2 separate regions of the Homo sapiens genome follow, and region 2 is linked to region 1. A link means that fine-mapping ties the variant in region 1 to the expression of a gene that starts in the linked region. Tissue or cell type: sun-exposed skin. Region 1 holds a variant in brackets; the other region holds the start of a gene. All regions are shown on one strand. Distances are between the middles of the regions.

Region 1 (7,552 bases):
CCTCCACCACGGGCTCTCCCTGAGACTGTACGGCTGTCCTGTTGCTGCAGTAACACATTAGCACAAATTTGGTGGCTTAAAACAGTAGCAATTTTTTTCTGTCACAGTTTTGGAGGCTGGAAGTCTGCAGTCAAGATTGGTCAGGGCCACAACCCTTTGGAAGTGCTGGGGGAGAGCAGGTGCCCCACCCTCCAGGTGCTGGTCCGCTGGCATTCCTCGGGGTATGGCTGTGCCTCTCGCCCCTTCTTCACAGCACCTCTCCTGTGTGTCTCTCTTGAACCTACATCTCCCCTCTCTCATAGGAACACATGTGGGGGCATCTAGAGCCCGCCAGATAATCAGGACAGCCTTCTCCTCGAAACACCCTTAACTTCATCACATCTTTTGCTAAATAAGATACAAGTCATGGGTTCCAGGGATTAGGACGTGAACACGGGGCTGTCCTCCAACTAGCTACAGAGGCCTGGACTGAAGGAGCTCTGGGGGGAAGCAGAAGGAATCTCGAGAGCTGGAGCAATAGAGGACTCTGGAGACTATGCTGGGGCCTCACCCCGCCTTGGCCGTGGGGTTTTAGGGTGACCCCTGAGGCACAGTCCCCCCAGCACTGACCTACTCTTTGCCTTCACTCAACTGCTTCTGCTTCCTGTGGCCCTGTTGCTGCTCAGACCCTGGCCTCCTCCCAGGCCACCCCCTCTTCCAGGGCCCTTCCCCATCTTTTGGCCTCCCTCATTGGCTAATGCCCAGCTATCATCCCAGGGATCCGAGAAGCCTCGGTCCCCCAAGTGCTATGAGCCACCCTCCCCCGGGTGCCACGGCCCCGTCTGCTGCCTGCTCCTGTCTGTGTCTCCGTGAACGGTCAGCCGCAGGGACGTCCAGATGCTTCACCATCAGAACCCAGCAACTAGGACCGTGCCAGGCACCGTACTCATTCACGCAATGAAGGAACGGGTGAGGGAGTGAGCGACTGACTCCAAGGCCCCTGCCATGTAGGAATTCTTAGGCTTCAGGCACAGTGGGTTTCCCGAGTGGCCAACTGCAAAGGGGAGAGCCTGGCCTTGGAGCCCGAGTGTGCCCGGCTCCCCGATGCTCTGCTCACACCCTGCTGCTGCCAGAGTCCCGGGGCTGCCCAGCCTCTCCCCAGGACATGCTGAAACAGTGGCATCCCAAGCCTTCCGTGGATGGATGGCAAATAGGCAGGGCTGGGGTCCAGGGCTGGGCGGGCTGTTGAGATAGAAGCTAGGACCACCGCAGGGCTAGATGCTCCGCCTCCCGCCACCCTCCTATCAGGGACGCTCCCCCTGCAAGACTGTCCTGGGACGGGAGACTGACAGTCCTGGGCTCATCACAAATGGTACTGATCCCTGACAAAGGAGCCTCATCCTGATGTCTGACAAAGGCACCTCACCCATCAGCAAATGGCAGTGGGGGGCGTGGCCAGGGACACCCCCCAGCCCCGGTCCTCTTTGTGTTTTCTTTCCCCACCTCAAGAATTCTCAGGCATCCTCTGAGGAGGAGCAGGACACATGGAGACACCGGGAAAGTCTTTGGAGTCTCTTGCTGGAAGGCCAGAAGCAGTGTTCCTGTCTACAGGCGAGGGCAAGAACTGGCCCCGGTGCAGGGGCTTCTGACGGCGCAGAGCGCCAGGCGAAGCTCTTGTGGAATCCAGGTGCTTCTGCCTCCATTCTGGGCTCGTTTTACCACAGTGCAGGCACTGGGAGCCCTTGCTGTCTGTGTTTTGGGGTCACAGGCGACTCAGGGTCTTGAGTGTGCACAGCCCTCCCTCCCAGGCCGGGGAGCCCCCAGTCAGGAGGCCTGAGGGTCAGGAGGCTGGGCATCTGGTCCCAGGGCCAGGCCGCCTGCTGTGTAACCCTGGACAGGCCATTCCACCTCTTGGGCCTCAGTTGGGTTATTGGAAAAGCAAGAGAAAGAATTCATTCCTACTTCACAGGACCTTGGGATTAAAGGAGAATGTGCCTTAGAGGAGGGGTGTGAAGCCAGGCTCAAGATGCCTGGGAGAAGCCGCCTGAGGCCTGCTGCAGGGGCTGGAGTTGGCTTCCTGGAAGCCCATTCGGCTGCCCTGCACACATCAGGAGACAGGGAGTGATCCAGCGCCATCCTCAGGCACCCAGTGCATCCCAGCTGCTCTAGCCTGCTGGGGAACATGGCATGGCCAGCCTTGCCCACTGCCTGCCCGGACGCACCGTCCTCAGGGACATCCATGCCTCACCTCCCCGGCAAGCACCCCTCCAGTCGCCACCTCCTGCCTCTGTCAGGCCCAGCCCTCAGAGCGCCGCCCTATGTTCCCACACAGACAAGGAGAGCTGGTCCAGGGAGGGCGCCTCTCCCTGCGTGCTGGGCCTGGCTGTGTGGGAGGCAGTGGGCACTCGCCACCACTACCGCCTCCTTCACCGCGGGCCTTTGGCATCGAGGGGCTCTCCGACTGCCAAGGTTTAAATGGCAACTGGCGCAGGCTCCCAGCCCCAGGCCCGTCTCCGCCGGCTCTCTGGACAGCTGACAGCTGTCACACACTGCGGCAGGCATATGCTCGCCCAGCCCCATGTCCCACTAGCCAGGGCGCAAAACAAGCCCTGAGGCCCCTGCCCCATCCTGCCACATCCCAGGCTGCACATGGCCAGAGTCCAGCCTCCAGGCAGGCAGCTCCGTCCTCCTCCAGGCCTCTCTGACTACACCAGAAAGAAGGATAACCAGGCCCTGTGGTTGACACTGCCAAAAATTTGCTCTGTGACCATCAGACACATTAGTCCCTTCTCCCTGGGTCTCACTTCCTCATCTTCACAAAGCAGGGGCCAATGGCCCCACAGTCTCTCCCAGCTCTGACAGCCAAGCTTGCCTGCCCTAAATCATCAGAGACACAAGAGCCTACTCCAGGACCGAGGGGCACAGACCAGGGTGGGGCTGCGTCCTGGCTCATGGGCCCCAGGGATGAGGGGACGTTGGTGATGTTGGGAGACAGAGCACCTGGGACCATCCCTACCCTCCGTTCACTCATGAAGGCGCCTTCTGGGAACCACCTCCAAGTGCTTTTGCCTTCGGGTTCAGACTTCCATGGAAAGACTTGAGGCTCTTGGGCGAGGTGTGTAGGGCTCAGGAAGGGCACTGGCCGTGGGGACAGACGCAACTGGCATGGCCTGAGGATAGGCCAAGAGCCAGGGAGGAGAACAAGGGCCCCGGGGGAGGAGGGGCTGCCAGAACAAGCTGCTGTGACCCGGGGGGCCGACAGCCTGCAGGGCCTTCTCTGATGGCACTGCTGCTCCCTGGAACCAGGGTGGCATCCTCGCTTGGCACAGCTGGCCCTCGGGGCTGCCCAGGCCTGCCCGGGTCCCATGTGGCAGGAGGGACTCGGAGCAGGCACATGGGCCAGGGGCAGGAAGGTGTCGGGCCAGGCCAGCCAAATGCAGGCAGGCAAGGGGCCGCCACAGGGACACAGGTGGCAGCGTGAGTGCTCCCCCAGAGCCGGAGAAGGGGTTCTCTCCAGGGCAGGCTCTGCAGACCTGAACCTGCCCAACCAGTGGCCCCACCAGAGCCAGGACAGCACACACCCAGGAAGAAGCCACGAAGCCCTCACAGAATGCACACGTCACAGAATGCAC[A/G]CTTCACAGAATGCACACTTGAGATTCTCGCAGCCCCGGGGCCTGAGCTGAGGGGTCACCGGCAGTGCCGTGGGAGTCAGGCTGCCCTCCCGGAAGCCAGGCTGCTCCTGAGCAGAGCGGAGGCTCCATCGCCCTCCGGGGGGCACGGTGGCAGTCTCCAGGCTGCACTGGGGTTGGATGAGCTGGGGGTGGAGCACAAGGGGTCAGTCCCTCTCCCCACATCCCACGACTTTCCATGAAGGCCTCCCTGCTCAGGGGCCCCATGCTCAGAGGCCAGGGGTGACCTGGGGTGGATTCTGGACACACCTCTGCCCCCAAATGCCTTAGCAGCACTGAACCAGGACGTGGAAAGGGGCCAGCACTGACCTTAACTGCCAGCAGGAGGTCCACTATCGTCTGTCTAGGTAATGGCAGTGCCTCAGTGTGCCCTGGAGAATTGCTCCTCAGGCCGCTCCAGGACAGGGGCCGGGGTACTTCCTCCCAGTGGCCCTAACCACACCTACTGAGCACCGCTCCTGGGGGACCTCAGGTGCCCACACTCCACTCAGATCTGGGGCCTCTTGTTTTGCCCCAGCACCGGCCGTCCCCACCCCAGCTGCCCTCCATGGCTACTGCTGTGCCAAGGATGGGCTGGGCCCCCACCCCAGGCCCTGCCTGCCTCTTCTTGCCCTCGCGAGGGCTGTCAACCTCCTTCCTGACACTGTCTCACAGGCCCACCAGGTGACCCTGAGCATCAGGCATGGCCCATCCCCATCTCCTGAGGGTCATAGTAACCACCAGAGCCCCCTGTCACTCATGCTTCTGGGGCTTGCTCTGAACCCATGTCCTCCAAACTCTGTGGCCCCGTCCCCCCTCCCGCTGCTTGTCCTCCCCATCCTACTGTTGGGGCTCACTCTCCACGGGGTGTGAATTTCCCTAGAGATTCTGACTCGGGTGGCCTCTGGGTCTCTGCCCCACCCTGCCTCATGCAGGAGCCCCATGCTCAGGCCCTTGGGACAGCGCCCTGGCTGCTCCTTGCCCACACAGGCGCTCAAGCGGAAGGAGCTCACATGTCCATTCCCATCCCAGCACTCAGTAACCTCTCCCATTAACCTTCCCTGCTACAGCCGATTAAGCAAAGTCCCTAGAGAGTTGTAGAATCGGTGGCTCAGAAACATCCCATCCTCTCTGTAATAGTCAGCGTGGGCTGCCACAGCAAAATACCACAGACGAGGTGGCTTAAACGGTGGATACTTAACTCTCACAGCTCTGGTGAGTGCAAGTTTAAGGTCAGGGCATCCACCCGCAGGGCTCTCTCCTCGGGTGATGGGCGGCCGCCTTCTGGGTGCATCTTCACGTGGCCTTCCTCAGTGCACGCATGCAGGGAGGAGAGAGGGCACCTCAGGTGTCTCTTCTTATAAGGTCAGTGTCCCTCCCTGATAACCCCATTTAGGATTAGTTGCTTCCTTAGAGTCCCTATCTCCAAATACAGCCACACTGGGACTTAGGGTTTTAACACATACATTTGCAGGGGGACACGGACATTCACATCACAAGACCCCACCCCCCTACGCCCCCATTCAGGTGACAGTTCAGGAACTTTCTGCCAGAGAGCTGGAGCAAACTGCTAAATGTGGCAAAGTGAGTTTGGGTGCACCCTGAGTTCTCTACTCCCAGCTGAGCGGCTTCCCCACCCCAGAGTTCCTGCTCCAGCCAGCATTTCCAAAGCACTTACCGTGCAAGTCTGAGAGGCAATCGCATCAATTATGCTCACAGAGGTCCTGAGCATGCACTTTCCCACAGCCCTCTCACAGTTGCCTCGTGCACTCGGAGACTCAGGGAGAAAGCACTATCGGGGGGCTGCTCCGAGCCCAGACATCCGGCCCTGGTGGAAGGAAAACATGGAGTCTGCTCTCTGGGCTAATTGGTGCCTCCTCTGACTTGGGCACCTCCCTCAGGCCTGAGGAGCAGGTGGGAACTTTGACCCACTGAACCGAGTGAGGGGCGCTGGTCTGAGGCTGGCTGGGCAGAGATGCATCCGTGGGAGCCGAGAAAGTCCCTGCCGTGCTCCTGATCCTCCTGCTGGGCTCCAGCATCATGCAGTATTCCCTGCAGGCAGGCCCACTCCTCAACTACCCCCTTGCCCTTGGTGTCCCAGAGGCTGAGGGTGCAGCCCAGGATACCTGAGGGTGCCCGCTCAGCACTCAGGCACATAGCCTGGATGTGCAAGGGAGTGGGGCAGCCGTTGGCCCATGAGGGTGGAGCCTGGTGGGTCTTCCATGTCTGGGTGCACAATTCTATGGCACACGCCATGCGGCTCCTAGGGCATCCCGTGGGCTTGAGCCCCAGGTGGCCACTACAGTGGCCTGTTTGAGGCCACAGCCTTGTAGGACCAAGCACCCTGTCTCGTTCTGCCTCACCCTGCCTGCACCCTGATTCCTGAGCGTCTGAAATCACTTGCCGAAGCAAAGGGCTCCCGTACAAACCCTTGTCTCAAGTTCCGTGTTCGGGGGAACGTCTGCATTCAGAGATGACCCTAGTGCGCCCTGCTGCCTGGAGTCCACACCCTTGTGTTCTGAGGACCTGGCGCAGTCGCTGGCACAGGGCAGTGCTCAGTGAGGGTTTCTAAATGAGCCTCCCCTCGGGGCCGGGGCATGGGGTTTGGTGTCTCATCGAAGCTGCTGGCTACCAAGTGAGCAGCCTGCTCACACATGGACTCGGTGACTGTCACCACGTAGAGGCACTAAGACCCTAGAGGCCAGGAGAGCCCTGCTCTGGGGAGCACCAACTGGCACCTGGGCCCCAAGAGAGACTTGGTGAGCTCCTGGGAGCAGGGACAGAGGACAGAGGCCTGGAGGCCACGGAGGGCAGGGAGCCCAGGAGAGGAAAGTGGTTCCAGTCAGCTACACTCACCATGGGCACAGCCCGCCACCCCTCAGCCTCCTCAGCCACTGTTGGGACAGGAAGAGGGGGCGTCCAGGGGCAAGGCTGGGCTCAGCACCTGGGAGCTGTGGGGAGGTGAGGGGTACCATGGGCTGGCCTATGAGGCAGGGCAGCCGCAGGAAGGTCAGCTAGCTGCAGGAAACACCCCTCATACAGCTCCAGGCTGACCTCACACAGCTCCAGGCTGACCGCATTCTCTGTGCTTGGAATGTGCTTCTGCTCCTCTCTGCCTTCCTCTGGGAATAGCAGTTCTCCTGGAGGAGGGACTGCTGATGGCTCTTTCCATTGCCTCTTTGAGATGCAAATTCCCTGACCCAGGGGCACCCCCTCTGTGGGCTGCTCTCTCCCCTGCCAGGCCAAACAATCACTGCCTGGCAGCCACTGGGGCTGGTGGCTCCTTCATTACCTGCCTCACCATGCACCTGGTGGGTTCTTTCCCAGCTGCTGGCTCCCCCAGGGACAGGAGAGGCCGGGCCCTTGCCAGCTGATGTGGGTTCCTGCGTGGCCCGTGCTGGCTGCTCACAGGCGGGCACTGCTGCCGCTGCTGCACCTGCACTTCCTTTCTTGCTCATCTTTGTCAAGGAGGATGCCTGGGGCTGCGGCTCCTCTGCACCCTTCCCGAAACCTGTCAGCCCTTTTGGGGACTGGGCACAGATGGCAGGTCCTGCAGCTCCTCTCATCTTTCTGTTCAGAAGCCATCCTGTCCGGCTCAGGCCAGGTGGCGAGGGGAATCAGCCCCGGCCTCAGGGTTCACACCCTCTTCCCTCCCTGACAGCCATGTGGGCTGATGTCCCCCAGCTGTGCTGAACGCCAAGGTGACCATCAACCACCAGTCACTCAAATGAGGAGGCTTTGATCAGAGGTGAATGGCTCAGCTGTGAGGTGTCATTTGCTGGGCTGGAGTGAGGCCCAAGAGGGTTGTTCAGTCCTGGGGGTCCCCAGGGAAGGGTCTGGGCCTTGCATCTGTCCTCAGGAGCAGCCAGGGGGCAATGGCAGCGCCGTGCTTTCTGGGCAGTGGG
Region 2 (7,552 bases), 660 kb after region 1:
GAGTCAGCTCCCAGAAGCCCCAGGGCCTGGTCCGGCTGTCCTGGCCCCGGCCTCATGCCCTGCACTAGGTGGAAGACAGGATCTCCAGGGAACCCGGCTGCTTTGGGCCCATGGCAGTGGGGTGGGTGGGCAGAAGGCCAAGAGCAAACAGGAAAATCTGGAGTCCCTGGAGGCAACTGGCAGAGAAGAGGAAGGAGGCCAAGGGTGAGTCACACTGAAGCCACACTAACTGTTGTTATTGTACATGATTCTGTGGGTCAGGAATTTGAGCATGCTAGAGTCAGATGTTTCACAGTGGAGGACGCTTAGTCATGGGGCATACCAGGCACATGGTGGGACTAGAACCCAGGGCCGCTGGATGGGGGTTCCCAAGGCAGGGTCTCCTGGGACAGGAAGGCTGGTTCCATCCCTGGTGTGACTGCTTACCACCTCAGGGACGGGATCACTTGGTCTCCCAGGACTTGGGTGCTGCTGGTGGGGAGTGGAGATTGGCATGGAACTGGGGTCGGAACTGGGGCCTGATCCCCAAGATGCATGGGGCTCCCCCAGGTGCTCCTACCATTACTCAGGGAACCTTGGATCTCTTCTCAAAGACCAAGTCCATTCTGGCACTGGGGAGGGATCAGAAAGAGAGGAAGAGAAGGAAGAAAATACACTAGTGTGTGATCACCCAGGGGGTTCATTTTGACCCCTGGCAAGATACAGCCGATTTATCAAGACAGGGGAATCACAATAGAGAAAGAGTTTAATTCACACAGAGCCAGCTGACCGGGAGACTGGAGTTTTATTATCACTCACATCAGCCTCTCAGCCCCTGTCCACCGGATGAGGATCTGCAGGAAGCCATGCCCCTTGTGGCAGAACTTCCCAGAAAGGAGAACTGCCAGAAGATCCAGGCTCAGTTTAGGCTCAGGGGCTGCATTCAGTGTATGGCCAAAGTGTGAATGACAGGGGACAGGGATTCGCCTGTGACCAGGGTCAAAAATCAGAGGGTGACCACAGTCAGGGTTCATTCTGTGACCAGGATCAGGGCTCAGCCAGTGGCCAGGGCCAGGGCTCAGGGTGGGGCCGTAACCAGGGCTCGTTAGGTAACCAGGATTAGAGTTCAGACTGACCACAGTGAGGGCTCAGTTTTGGGGTGAGGTCAGAACCCAACCTGTGGTCAGGGGTGGGGCTCTAGGAATGTCACAGCCATGGTCTTCCGTATAGGAGCCATGACCACGGGGCCATCCTCAGACCAGCCACACCCTCAGTGCGGCGGATGCTGGGGCTGCGGATTCTGTGGTGGGGATCCTGTGTGTTGCCCCCTCCTTGGCCTGCACCCACTAGAGGCCAGCAGCACCCCTGAGCTGGAATAAGCAGAGATGCCTCCAGACATCACCAAACATTCCCTGGCGGTGCAGAGTCACCCACGTGAGAACCACTGCCTTACAGCAATCACTGTGTATCAAATCAGATCAACAAACACTTACACACCTATAAATATTTGAGGACGGAAAGTTCCAGGCTGGCACCTTGAACACAGAGACAGATAAGAAAACGTCTTGTGCGGGAGTGGCCAGAGTCCGGGCGAGCTGGGGCGGGGGGCGGAGGGAGGATGGGACAGGGGCTGTCAGCCACACACGGAAGCAGTTCATGACTGTATGAGGCCCCTTGTCCTGAGCTTACAGGACATGGGCTGGAGGGCGTGTCCAGAGGGAAAGTTCTGGGTGGGCAGAGTGGGCAAGCAAGGAGTCTGGGGGAGGCTGCAGTCACCCTGCATGGCCTCCAGTAAGTTCCTGTCCCTCTTGGGCTCAGGCTCCTCACTTGCCAGAGAAGAGACAATTTCCATGGAAAAGAGCCCAACCCAGTGGGTTCCAGGGAGGCAGGCAGGAGAGACCTCAGAAGGACAGGGGCTGACCTGGAGCCCCGGGGGAAGCCCAAAGGCAGATTCCTGGTGCCACTGAGTCCCAGGGAGGTCGGGTCTTGCATCGTCCCTGCCCCCATCAGTAGTGTCACCTTGATCCCAGACTCAAGGTGAGACAGTGGGAAGCTGATGTCCCCTGAACACCCCAGAAACATCTACCAGCCTTCCTGGACGGTGCAGGCCTTCCTGGACGGTGCAGACCTGCTGGGAGAGGGTCCGATTCCCCGAGACTTTTCCTGACTGCAACATCCTCACCACCCCCTAAAATGTGCCAGAGCCTTTTCAGGGGCAAAATCGAGGAGAGGAGGTAACAATGAAGGCCGGACAACCATCAGCGGGGACGAGAGAGCGTCAGGGGAGAAGGGGCCGGTCTCCCTCCAGACACACACTCGGCAGCAGGCAGGGCCACGGACCACAGTGGACCTACCAGCTTCCGGCAGGAACAACAGCATACCCAAGAGGGTTGCCAGGCAGAGTTATCTAACTCAGGGTCCATGTACAAAGGCAGGGGTCAGGTTGAAGGAGACAGCAGCGGCCACAAGTCCCCCTCAAAGCCAGCCAGCAGCAGGAAGCCACCAGCCCCTCGGGCTTGCAGGGATGAGGGGGAGAGCACAGTGACCAGAGGCTGGCCAGAACCCGGGGGACAGGAGAAGCCTGGCTGACGGGACCTGGGCCTTCTCTAGAGGGCCATAGCCACTGCCACCACCACCCAGCCACTGGCAGGAGAGCCTGGGCCTGCTCTAGAGGGCCATAGCCACTGCCACCACCACCCAGCCACTGGCAGCAGAGCTTGGGCCTGCTCTAGAGGGTCCTAGCCACTGCTACCACCACCCAGCTGGCTGGCAGGAGAGCCTGGGCCTGCTCTAGAGGACCATAGCTACTGCCACCAACACTCAGCCGGCTGGCAGGAGAGCCTAGGCCTGTACTAGAGGACCATAGCTACTGCCACCAACACTTAGCCAGCTGGCATGAGAGCCTGGGCCTGCTCTAGAGGGCCATAGCCGCTGCCACCACCCACCGCCCAGCTGACTGGCATGAGAGCTTGGGCCTGCTCTAGAGGGCCATAGCCACTGCCACCACCGCCCAGCGGGCTGGGCCTGCTCTAGAGGGCCATAGCCACTGCCACCACCTCCCAGCTGACTGGCAGGAGAGCTGGCCTGAACTTGCCTCTTCCACTCTCTCATCTCCTGCCTGTGGGAGCTGGACCAGCCTCCCAGGACATGGAGCAGGACGGAGAGGGGATCTGGGGCAAACAGAGGCCATACAGCCCTGGGCCTAGCCGCTGCCTCCTGCTACTGCAGAGGCTGCTAAAAGCTGCACTTCCCCGACTCGTTTGCAGCTAAAGTTCCAAGCTGAGGGGGTCACTCAAGGTCCTGAGGGTAAAGCACCTAGCCCAGGGCTCAGCCCACACTGAATGCCCCATAAATGAAGGCCCGTCCAACAGGGTCTCCTCCCCAGGGAGGCTGTCCCCTGTGTCAACAAGAGCCAAACTCTGTAAAATATTTGAAGACATTTATTCTGAGCCAAATATGAGGGACCATGGCCTGTGACACAGCCCCCAGGAGACCCTGAGAACATGTGCCCAAGGTGGTCAGTGCACAGCTTGATGGTACCCATTTTAGGGAGACATGAGACATCAATCAAATATATTGAAGATATACATTGGTTTAGTCCAGAAAGGTGGGCAGCTGGAACTGGGGGCTTCCAGGTTATAGGTGGATTTAAACATCTTCTGGTTGGCAATCGCTTGCAAGAGTTATCAATAGAAAGGAATGTCTGGGTTATACGGGGTTGTGGAGACCAAGGCTTTATCATCAGATGAAGCCTCCAGGTAGCAGGCTTCCGAGACAATAGATGGTAAATGTTTCTCATCAGACTGAAGGCCTGTGTTGATGTTAACGCTGGCTGTTCCAGAGTTCTGAAGGGAGGAGGGATAATGAGGCTATCCAACCCTTTGCTGTCATGGCCTGAACCAGTTTTTCAGGTTAACTTCGGAAAGCCCTTGCCAAGAGGAGGGTTCCACTCAGATGGCTGGGGGGCCTTAGAATGTTACTTTTGGTTTATACCGGAACAGCCCCTGCCCCTGTCCTTTGCAGCACCTGCTAATGATCTGTCAGTGACGCTGTGACCAAGGCTCATCACCCTGCGGGCCGTGGGCCCCAGAGGGCGGCACAGCTTCTATAGGAGCACAGGGCCCAGGGAGGTGCCCTCATCCTTGGCTGGAAGGCCGAGGCCTGGAGGAGTCTGGAGAAAGGGTCTCCCTTGTCTGGCCTTGCACTGTGAGGTGGGGGAGGTGGGAGAGGCATAATCTGGGTCTTGAGGACGTTTCAGCCCTCAGCCCGGGGTGGCTGAGATATGGCCCTGGGTAGGCTCTGTCCTCCAGAGGTGGAAAGAAGGACAAAGGGAGAGGGAGGTGCAGGTCGCTCAGGGAGGAGACTCGGACCTGCCCAGCCCCGGGGCCCTCACTGGCTCCAGGAAACCCGCTGGTGTTGACTGTGGGCAGTCCAGCCTCTCCCCATTTGAGGCCATATAAAGTCACCTGAGGCCCTCTCCACCACAGCCCACCAGTGACCACGAAGGCTGTGCTGCTTGCCCTGTTGATGGCAGGCTTGGCCCTGCAGCCAGGTGAGGCCTTGGCTGGCCCCCAGCAGGGAAGGGAGCAGGGGTGAGCCGGGGAGGCCAGAGGGATACCTGCAGGGCACACGGAGAGGAGGGGAAGGAAGGAGGAAGGGAGAGGAAGGGGGTGAGGCTCTTGCCCTAGCCTCCGCTCCTCCAGGGAAGCTCTTGGCACGACCAGGCAGCGACCTGTTCCCTGCCGTCCCCTGTGACCGGGGCTTGCAGGGGCAGCACGGAGTCACTCTCCTTCACCACCGTGGGGCAGGGCCTGGCTCCTAGGGGGCAGGTAGACAGACTGACGGATGGATGGGCAGAGATGCTGATGAGGAGCTGGGAGACATGGGACAGGAAGCCTCAGGCTAAGAAGTGGTTTTTGGGGCACAAGGGGGAGGTGCTGGGGGTGTCCTGCGAGGACCCGGGGGTCTACATCCGGCCCAGTCCCAGCACTGCAGCTTCCAAGGGTCCCAGGGAGCTGCTCTGCTTGAGGTGGGACCCTCCCGACCCAGGGTCCCGGGTTCAGTCACCCCCACAGCCGCAGCTTCCTCTTCTGAAACACACGGTCACAAAAGCAGCCACCGAGGGACTAAACAGGGCAACATTTCGGAGGCACTGAGCAGGGGGCCGTGAAGATGGGGAGGAGACATTGAGGGTGACAAGAGGGCGCCGAGGACTTCCTCAGGCCACCGCCATGGAGGCCCACCTGCCTGGGAGCCCCCATTCCTGGGGAGTGCTATGGGGCAGCCTCTGAGGCCCCTCCCACTCCACCCCACAGGCACTGCCCTGCTGTGCTACTCCTGCAAAGCCCAGGTGAGCAACGAGGACTGCCTGCAGGTGGAGAACTGCACCCAGCTGGGGGAGCAGTGCTGGACCGCGCGCATCCGTGAGTGGGGGGACGACAGCCGCCAGGCCTAGGTCTCTGCCACTGAACTATTAATCTTTCTGGCCATCTGTCCGCATCTGTGTGCTGTTTTCCTTCCACCTGTCCCCGACCCGTCCCGCACCTGCACCCCCAACAATCACCCAGCATCTGTCCCTCCAGCCATCCTCCTCCATCTGCCACTCCTCCACTCATCTGTCCCTCCCCATCCTCCATCTTCCACTCCTCCACCCATCTGTCCCTCCCCATCCCTGAGCTCACTTACTCACTCACCCCATTTCTGACGCTCAGCGGGTGGTCCATCTGCCTCGGACATCTGGATAGGGCTGAGACCAGGGCCGAGACCAGGCCCTCGCACTGCTTGCAATCCTGAGGCCAGCCCAGGGGGACTCTAGAGCATTAGGCAGGGTGGGACAGGAGGAGGCCTGGGGCAGGTCAGGCAGGTGAGCACACAGGGCAGCCCCATCCCCGGATCCCGCTGCTCCCCAGGCGCAGTTGGCCTCCTGACCGTCATCAGCAAAGGCTGCAGCTTGAACTGCGTGGATGACTCACAGGACTACTACGTGGGCAAGAAGAACATCACGTGCTGTGACACCGACTTGTGCAACGCCAGCGGGGCCCATGCCCTGCAGCCGGCTGCTGCCATCCTTGCGCTGCTCCCTGCACTCGGCCTGCTGCTCTGGGGACCCGGCCAGCTCTAGGCTCTGGGGGGCCCCGCTGCAGCCCACACTGGGTGTGGTGCCCCAGGCCTCTGTGCCACTCCTCACACACCCGGCCCAGTGGGAGCCTGTCCTGGTTCCTGAGGCACATCCTAACGCAAGTCTGACCATGTATGTCTGCGCCCCTGTCCCCCACCCTGACCCTCCCATGGCCCTCTCCAGGACTCCCACCCGGCAGATCGGCTCTATTGACACAGATCCGCCTGCAGATGGCCCCTCCAACCCTCTCTGCTGCTGTTTCCATGGCCCAGCATTCTCCACCCTTAACCCTGTGCTCAGGCACCTCTTCCCCCAGGAAGCCTTCCCTGCCCACCCCATCTATGACTTGAGCCAGGTCTGGTCCGTGGTGTCCCCCGCACCCAGCAGGGGACAGGCACTCAGGAGGGCCCGGTAAAGGCTGAGATGAAGTGGACTGAGTAGAACTGGAGGACAGGAGTCGACGTGAGTTCCTGGGAGTCTCCAGAGATGGGGCCTGGAGGCCTGGAGGAAGGGGCCAGGCCTCACATTCGTGGGGCTCCCTGAATGGCAGCCTCAGCACAGCGTAGGCCCTTAATAAACACCTGTTGGATAAGCCAGAGAGACCCTCTGTCCTTGCACACCCCAGGCGGGCACCGGATCCAGGGCTGTGTCTGGACCAGGGCCCTGGTCACATGGGCTGCAGCCTCCGCCCTAACAGGAGCAAAGCTTGGCCCCTGAAAGGAGGACGTCCCTGCAGAGGGTGGGAGGGCAGTTCCCAGGACTTGCACTTGCTGTGCTGCCTGGAGCATGTGGCCAGACCTCTCTGAGCCTTGCGACTCATCTATGACCCCTCCTTGCTGGGAGGATGGACCCAGAAAGTTCACAGGAAGGAGAGCGTTCCGGGGGGAGGGACTGCTACCATTCAAGCTCCTACCCATCCCCTTGGCCTGATTTGAGCACCCCCATTTTTCAAAATTTGTTTTAGAGCTGCACACCCACCATACAGCATTCAAACACTACAGCAGGGTCCCCGGTGACAGGTGGCCTCCCCCAACCCTGAACCCCAGCGCCTTCCCTCTCTGGGGTGCCCATTACACCTCCAGAGGCTTCTTTCTGGGAGAATCTGTGCCCCGTGAGCATCCCCAGGCCCCTGAGTGGGAGGACACCATCCACACTTGCCTTCTGCGCTCAGGGGAAGCCTTTTGCACACAGCCTGCTTCCCGCCCTAGGGCTAGGGGTGCAGCCTGTGACCTGGGTGGGGACCTGCTCAGGGTGAGGCCTCCAAGGGTGTTAGGGGTGGGGCTCGGGGGGCGGTTTCAGAGAAGAGGAGACAGAGGCTCAGGAAAGGGAACGGGTCTGTTGCCCACATCCCATACCGAGCCAGGATTGGAACCCTGGCCTGGAGCTCTGAGGGTGGGTCATGGAGCAGACAGTGGGCAGAGCTGTGCTGGAAAGAGCCAGGCCTCCCGTCTGACA

Evidence for each region. PIP is the estimated chance that this variant, and not a neighbour inherited with it, causes the effect.
Region 2: it holds the start of PSCA, and the variant in region 1 is the best candidate, but not a certain one, in a credible set for the expression of PSCA in sun-exposed skin (GTEx, PIP 0.56).

Annotation. Positions count from the first base shown.
Region 1 is chr8:142,013,791-142,021,342 of GRCh38, forward strand. No RefSeq gene overlaps it. Among named protein-coding and RNA genes, the nearest start is that of MIR4472-1, 160 kb to the right of the region's middle. RefSeq lists enhancers at 6,634-7,315, 7,316-7,552. The variant A/G (reference allele first, on the strand shown) is at 3,612.
Region 2 is chr8:142,676,033-142,683,584 of GRCh38, forward strand. It overlaps PSCA (prostate stem cell antigen), which reads left to right and starts at 4,463. Exons shown (of 3, transcript NM_005672.5): 1 at 4,463-4,531; 2 at 5,295-5,402; 3 at 5,889-6,693. The coding sequence starts at 4,507. The coding sequence ends at 6,100. RefSeq lists an enhancer at 5,208-5,854.